2 linked regions of the Homo sapiens genome follow. The main gene of each other region encodes a partner of the protein of the gene in region 2 in a complex. Links are inferred from orthologs where the notes say so. Each region holds a gene or a part of one and is shown on either strand. Other genes may lie near its edges.

The links.
Region 1: the proteins of MYO6 (region 2) and GIPC1 are in contact, whole or in part, in a crystal structure (PDB 5V6E), measured with the Mus musculus proteins. The link is inferred for Homo sapiens from one-to-one orthologs. Residues at the interface, in NP_001034635.2 of Mus musculus: Ser1055, Lys1056, Trp1057, Lys1058, Tyr1059, Ala1060, Arg1084, Arg1085, Leu1086, Val1088, Tyr1089, Trp1092, Lys1093, Asn1096; in NP_061241.1 of Mus musculus: Glu273, Ser274, Tyr275, Met276, Gly277, Ile278, Arg279, Asp280, Glu282, Leu283, Thr286, Asp310, Phe311, Ala312, Pro314, Glu316.

What each region holds. Positions count from the first base shown.
Region 1 is NC_000019.10:14,489,261-14,493,379, forward strand, and holds part of GIPC1 (PDZ domain-containing protein GIPC1), read right to left. Parts: intron 3,657-4,119; exon of another isoform or gene 3,653-3,656; 5' UTR 3,597-3,652; intron 2,484-3,596; 5' UTR 2,396-2,483; intron 1-2,395. UniProt on the Homo sapiens protein: May be involved in G protein-linked signaling.
Region 2 is NC_000006.12:75,747,282-75,750,881, reverse strand, and holds the start of MYO6 (unconventional myosin-VI), read right to left. Parts: upstream 1,644-3,600; 5' UTR 1,459-1,643; intron 1-1,458. UniProt on the Homo sapiens protein: Myosins are actin-based motor molecules with ATPase activity. Unconventional myosins serve in intracellular movements. Myosin 6 is a reverse-direction motor protein that moves towards the minus-end of actin filaments.

The sequences.
Region 1 (4,119 bases), on a different chromosome or scaffold from region 2:
TGCTCGAACAATCGATTGGCTAACGAGGTCGATGACGCCAGGCACAAGATGCTGGGCCTACCGCGGTAGCGTGAGGGAAGCCGTGCGTTCTGTTCCAAGGCATCTGTGAGCCCATGGAGTATACACCATGAGCAAAGCTCACCCTCCTGAGTTGAAAAAATTTACGGACAAGAAGTTTTCATTGAAATTAAATGGTGGCAGACATGTCCAAGGAATATTGCGGGGATTTGATCCCTTTATGAACCTTGTGATAGATGAATGTGTGGAGATGGCGACTAGTGGACAACAGAAAAATATTGGAATGGTGGAAATACGAGGAAATAGTATCATCATGTTAGAAGCCTTGGAATGAGTATAAATAATGGCTGTTCAGCAGAGAAACCCATGTCCTCTCTCCATAGGGCCTGTTTTACTATGATGTAAAAATTAGGTCATGTACATTTTCATATTAGACTTTTTGTTAAATAAACTTTTGTAATAGTCAAAAATGTTTTTTCAGATGTTCTGAATATACAATATTAGCTCTCATTCCAATTTTTTCTAACATGAATTTTCCTGGTTGACATTGATTTCAAAGGGTTTTATGTATTAAAGTGACAGAATCTTATTAAATGTGAAACATGGCAAGGAGAAAAAAAAAAAAAAAGAAACTCATGCTAAAATTTGATCCCCAAAGTGGTGGTGCGGTGTTGGGAGGTGGGGCCTAGTGGGAGGTGTCTGTGTTATGGGGCCAGATCTCTCCTGAATGGCTTGAAGTAGCTCTGGAAGCAATGAGTGCTTGCTCTCAAGAGCCCGGATTAGTTCTCCAGAACTTACAGTAGTTGGCCAGGTGCAGTGGCTCACACCTGTAATCCCTGCACTTTGGGAGGCCGAGGCGGGCGGATCACGAGGTCAGCAGTTCAAGACCAGCCTGGCCAACATGGTGAAACCCCGTCTCTACTAAAATTACAAAAAATTAGGCCAGGCACGGTGGTGGGCACCTGTAATCCCAGCTACTGGGGAGGCTGAGGCAGGAGAATTGCTTGAACCTGGGAGGTGGAGGTTGCGGTGAATCAAGACCGTGCCATTGCACTCCAGCCTGGGCAACAGAGAGAGACTCAGTCTCAAAAAGAAAAAAAAGAAAATACATTAGTTAGGCCAGGAACGGTGGTTCACGCCTGTAATCCCAGCACTTTGGGAGGCAGAGGCAGGCGGATCACCTGAGGTCGAGAGTTCGAGACTGGCCTGACCAACATGGAGAAACCCCATCTCTACTAAAAATACAAAATTAGCTGGGTGTAGTGGCACATGCCTGTAATCCCAGCTACTAGGGAGGCTGAGGCAGGAGAATCGCTTGAACCTGGGAGGCAGAGGTTGAGGTGAGCTGAGACAGTGCCATTGCACTCCAGCCTGGGCAATAAGAGCGAAATTCTGTCTCAAAAAGAAAAAAAAGGCCAGGTGTGGTGGCTCACGCCTGTAATCCCAGCACTTTGGGAGTCCAAGGCGGGTGGATCACGAGGTCAGGAGATCGAGACCATCCTGGCTAACACAGTGAAACCCCGTCTCTACTAAAAATACAAAAAAAATTAGCTGGGCGTGGTGGCACACACCTGTAGTCCCAGCTACTCGGGAGGCTGAGGCAGGAGAATGGCGTGAACTCGGGAGGCGGAGCTTGCAGTGAGCCGAGATCATGCCACTGCACTCTAGCCTGGGTGACAGAGCGAGACTCCATCTCAAAAAAAAAAAAAAAGAAAGAAAGAAAGAAAGAAAATACATTAGTTAGGCCGGGTGCAGGGACGGTGGCTCCCGCCTGTAATCCCAACACTTTGGGAGGCCGAGGCGGGTGGATCACCTGAGGTCAGGAGTTTGAGACCAGCCTGGCCAACATGGTGTGAGCCAAAGAAGGCTGGTGTGAGCCACTGCGCTCAGCCTATATTTTCTTATGTAAAAGGGACTTCCTGGTGCCTCCTATCCAATGGTCTCTTCCAGGGGGCCATGCTGGATTCAGCTTGGCCGCATCCAATCTTTTTTTTTTTTGAGATGAACTCTCACTCTGTCACCCAGGCTGGAGTGCAATGGCGCGATCTCGGCTCACTGCAACCTCCACCTCCCAGGTTCAAGCGATTCTCCTGCCTCAGCCTCCTGAGTAGCTGGGATTACAGGTGCGTGCCACCACACCTGGCTAATTTTTGTATTTTTAGTAGAGATGGGGTTTCTCCATGTTGACCAGGCTGGTCTGGAACTCCTGACCTCAGGTGATTCGCCCACCTTGGCCTCCCAGAGTGCTGGGATTAGAGGTGTGAGCCACTGCACCCAGCCTGCACCTAGTCTCATGTATCCATTTGTTCATGCATCCATTCGTCTGTCCCCTAACACACCCTCTCATCTCACCTGGTCCATCTCCATGATCACTTACCTAAACTAGTGTGGTTGCCTCCTGTGGGTTTCCCAGCTTCCACCCTCACCCCCTACGACTTCTTGTCCAGACAGCAGCCAGAATGGTCCTGTAAAACATAAGTCATGTCGCATTTGTCTCTGCTCTGACCCCTCCCCGGGCTCTGACCTCGCTGGAAAGAAAAATCAGTGTCGGCCGGGTGTGGTGGCTCTCGCCTGTAATCCTAACACTCCGGGAGGCCGAGGTGGGCATGAGCCACCACGCCCAGCCATATATTTTCAAAATTAGCCAGGCGTGGTGGCGGGCGCCTGCAGTCCCAGCTACTCGGAAGGCTGAGGCAGGAGAATGGCATGAACCCGGGAGGTGGAGTTTGCAGTGAGCCAAGATCGTGCCACTGCACTCCAGCCTGGGTGACAGAGTGAGGCTCCATCTCAAAAAAAAGAAAAAAGAAAAGACCCCTCATCATCCCTCCAATTCCGCCAGCTCTACGCACTGGGAGGCAGGAAACTAAAAACATGAATCTGGAACCTGGCTTCATCTCTTAATAGCTGTGTGACTTTGGGCAAGGGTCTTAACCTCTCTGAGCTCCAAGGAAATCATGCATGTGCTTGGAACAGTCCTGGCACACAATAAGGGTTGCATAAATATTGGTGACAATTACTGCTACTGCCATCTTTTGTTTTTTTTTTTGAGACGGAGTCTCGCTCTGTTGCCCAGGCTGGAGTGCAGTGGCACGATCTCAGCTCACTGCAAGCTCTGCTTCCCGGGTTCACGCCATTCTCCTGCCTCAGCCTCCCGAGTAGCTGGGACTACAGGTGCCCGCCACCATGCCCAGCTAATTGTTTGTATTTTTAGTAGAGACGCTGTTTCATCATGTTAGCCAGGATGGTCTCGATCCCCTGACCTCGTGATCCACCTGCCTCGGCCTCCCAAAGTGCTGGGATTATAGGCGTGAGCCACTGCACCCGGCCTTGCTACTGCCATCTGTACCAAGATTCAAGCTTCCTCCTTTTCCCAAGATCCCTACATCCTGACCACCAATTCCCAGCCTCCTTACTCTCTCTCTCTGCCCACCCCACTGCCCTGGTTCATGCCAGCTTCCGTGTCCCCACCCGTGAGGAGGCATTAACAGCAGTGAGGAAAGTGAGTGAGTAATGAATCTGCCTGCCACGGCCATAAGAGGCTTCGTGGCCTGGGTTCAAATCCCACCCCTGCCACTTACCAGCTGTGTGGCTGGGGGGCAAGTCACTTCACATCACAGGGCCTCAGTTTCTTCATCTGAAAAATGGGTGGAATTCCTGTCACTCTCAAGGTGGTTGTGGAAATCCAAAGAGATTACCCACGTATCCCATCTACACTCTGCCTCAGACTCCATTTAAGGACGCTGTTGTCATTACTATGGGTGTCTCCTCCTCTGCCCTGCCCTGCCCAGGAATATCCCAACCCTCTCTGCCTGCCAATACCTACTCCAGGCCCACTCCTCCATGAAGCCTCCCAGGCTTGCCCCAGCATGCTGGAACTGCCCCTGTGGTACAGATGGCTCAGGCCCATGAACTTAATTGCATGCTGCCCTGGCAGAACTCTTGTCTTCCAGCTTCAGGCTGTCATTTAACTTCATGTCTCTATTTTAAAACGTAAACCAGATGGCATCACTGCCCTGCCTGAAACTTTACAACAGTTTCCCACCTTCTGGAAGAAAAACTGCAATCTCCTTACTGTGACCCACAAACCCCTGCAGAATCGCT
Region 2 (3,600 bases):
CAGGCCAGGCGCGGGGGCTCAAGCCTGTAATCCTAGCACTTTGGGAGGCCGAGGCGAGTGGATCACCTGAGGTCAGGAGTTCGAGACCAGCCTGGCCAACATGGCGAATCCCCGTCTCTGCTAAAAATACAAAAATTAGCTGGGCAGTGGCGCGCCCTTACTGTAGTCCCAGCCACTCGGGCGGCTGAGGGAGGTCAATCGTTCGAACCTGGGAGGTGGAGGTTGCAGTGAGCTGACAGAGCGAGGCTCTGTCTCAAAAAAAAAAAAGTTAATTTTTAAAACTCTCAAGTTCTGACTTTATTTAGATAGACTGCATCTATACCACCAGAGCATTAAAAAAAAAAAAAAAATGAGGCTTATTTAGCCCGTACAGTTAAGTCTATTAAGTTAGGGCAGTGCTCCTCATTTCTCACTAATACTTGTAAATCAGGATTTAAGCATCCCTCCACCACATCACTTTATGCCAGGTAAGATGTAAAGAATATTTGGCCAGGCGCAGTGGCTCACGCCTGTAATCCCAGCACTTTGGGAGACCGAGGCGGATGGATCAAGAGGTCAGGATTTCAAGACCTGCCTGGCCAAGATGGTGAAACCCCGTCTCTACTAAAAATACAAAAAAATTAGCCAGGCGTGGTGGTGGGCGCTTGTAATCCCAGCTACTCGGGAGGCTGTGGCAGAGAATTGCTTGAACCCGCGAGGGGGAGGGTGCAGTGAGAGGAAATCGCACCACCGCACTCCAGCCTGGGCGACAGACCAAGGCTCCGTCTCAAAAAAAAAAAAAAAAGGTAATGAATTTTTTAAACTGTATGGAAATACTTTTAAACACGGATGTTCTAGCAATAACCCCATCAAATTGTGTCCTACTTAAAATTAAAATCCCAGAGTTTAAGCATTTTAATCGTTTTAGGGAGTTTTTGGAAATTAACAAAAAAAGTTCTTGTTCAGTAGCATATCCGTAAATTAACATACTCAAGGTACTGGACCACCTGGAGACTAAGAATAAGGCTTTAGAAAGTCTCGATCTGGTCTCCTACATGATTAGACTATTAATGGTATCATTTGATCTTCACATCTCAGAGCAAACTGCGCTCCCCCTGCACTGAATTTTAAGCGTGTTTACAAAAGAGAAAATAAAACTATCACGGAGTGTCCAAGTCCGAGTTAGGCACCTGAGTGCTCTGCTTCTACCTGGGAGCCAGGGAAGAAACACAAAGGGACCTTGGTGATGAGAACCCATGAAAGGAGACTGATTGTCTTTCGGTGGAAACGAGAACCACCGCCGGCCCCACTGCTGCCCAGGGCCCACCCATCCATCACCTGCTTCTCCCACCCGCGTCCTCGGGCAGTGAACAGAAGCGTCGGCCCCGGAGCTGCTCGAGGAGGCCCGGGAGCAAGGCCGGGCCAGGGAACGCGAGACCCCGGCGCCGACGCCCCGCAGTGGGTCTCTGGGACACTCACCGGTGCGGGAGCGAAGGCAGGTGCGCGGCGGCGGGGCTACCTGTACGGGTGAAGCTGGAGGGCGCGGTGAGAAGTGATGAGGGCCAGTGAAGAGGGCGACGACGCGGACGGGCACCAGGACAGGGCGGCGACAGCGGCCGGGCTGAGGCTGGCTTCCTGCTCGGACAGATCCCGAGTCGGTCTCCGCCCGCCGGCCGGCGCCCCGCCGAGTCCCCGGCACTGCGGCGTGCACGTCACGGCTACGGAGCGCCCGAAGGGGCGGGGGCGCCGGGGCCGCGGCAGGCCGTCGGGCGCGCGCTCCGGGAGGGAGGGCGCGCTCCGGGAGAGGGCGCGCGACCCCCGGGGTCGCCCCGCCCGCGGCGCAGAGCCTCTGGGGCGAGGGTAGGCGCCCTGCAGCGCAGAGAGGGGCTGCCCCTGGACAAGCCGGGAGTTCTTGTTCTTCCCATGGCGAAACGGCCTCTTTTGCCGCGGTAGTTGTTTCCAGTCCCGGCAAAGCAGGTCCTGTCCGGCTGGATACTGTGACTGTGCAGTCTACCAACAGCGAGAATCAGTTCAAGCAGGGAGAAAGTTGTTCGGAGAAGGGGCGAGGAGTCCGGGGCTCCGCGCGGGGGACCCAGGAACCAGGTGTCCGCGCTTGGGCGGCAGCGAGGCTGCGTGGCGGTTGCGGCAAGAACCACTGCTCACTCGGCCCCGGATCGGGCCGGCTTGGACTGGGCTGCCCTGCATAGGGGGGAACCTTCCCGCACAACTAAGTTGCCATTCGGTCTTTGGAGGAGGGGGCTTGGGATGGGAATTTCGCACCCCTTTGCCTCTTCCCGCTCCTACCCTCGCCGACGCATTTACTTTATTTAGAGCCCCTACCTTCTCAGTCGTTTAAATGTTACTGTTTTTATTAGTGACATACCTGTGAGTCACCTTTTAAAATATGAAGTACCTATGCAAATTTGAATTATATGGTAAAAACACATCACCTTTACAATGAAAACAGCTTCTTTTAAGGCAACGAAATAACAATTGACTATAATGCTAAATGTATCCGCTGAAAAAAGCCTACTTGCACATGAGAATTACACGTTTTTCTGCAACATTTATATGTAGCGACTTGGAAACTTCTGGAAATCTAGAAGATTCTGACGAGGAGACAAATTTCTGATACTTAAAGACTCCATGGTTCTGTGGGTGGAGAAATAAAAACTCTAAGTTCTGATAAGATGTTTTAGAATTCAACTAAAACAATAAAATATTAAGAGTAAAATAGGGAAGTAAGAAAGAGGAAGAGAAACAAAGAAAGGAAATAATTTACAGCAATCTCAGAAATTTAATTCCAAATTGCCAGAAGGTAAGTCTTAAGTATATAAAACTAAATTTCAAAACAAACTGAAAAAAAGAGGGAGAAGATGAAGATGGCTGTCTCAGTTCACACTGCTCTGACTCAATTTTGGATTTAATACTAAACTTCATTTGGCAAACCAATAGAAGTCAATACATTTTTTTAATTTTCTTAATTTTTTTGTTGTTGGTAAACACAGGGGCTTGCTATGTTGCCCAGGCTGGTCTTGAACTCTTGGCCTCAAGCAATCCCTGCCCGCCCCCCTCCCTTGGCCTCCCAAAGTGCTGGGATTACAAGTGTGAGTCACCACACCTAGATAAATCAATACATTTTAAAGATTTTTTTGTAGCTAATGACTTTCGTGATTGTTTTCTCTCCTTTGCCCCACACTTCCAATCCATTACTGAGTGCTTTTGCTTCTGGCTCTATAATATCTCTCTAATGTATCAAATTCCTCTTTATACCCACTACCACTATCTTGTTTCAGGCCACTATCATTTCAAATCTTGCATACTGCCTAAGTCACCTAACCAGTTTCCCAGGCCGCAGTTTTATCCCCTTCTAATCCAGTCTTTACAACGTCATCAGTTTGTCTTTTATGTACTCCACTATTTAAATTTCTGTAATGGCACTCTCTGACTCTTGATATAAAGTCCAAACCACTTAAAATGTCTTGTAAGATCCTTCTTGATTTAGCCACCAGTCACAAACTGGCTGTTTTTGTTTGCCTAACATAATGGGGATTTCCTTTTTTCCTCTTTTTTTTTTTTTTTTTTTTTTTTGAGAAAGAGTCTCCCTCTGTCTCCCAGGGT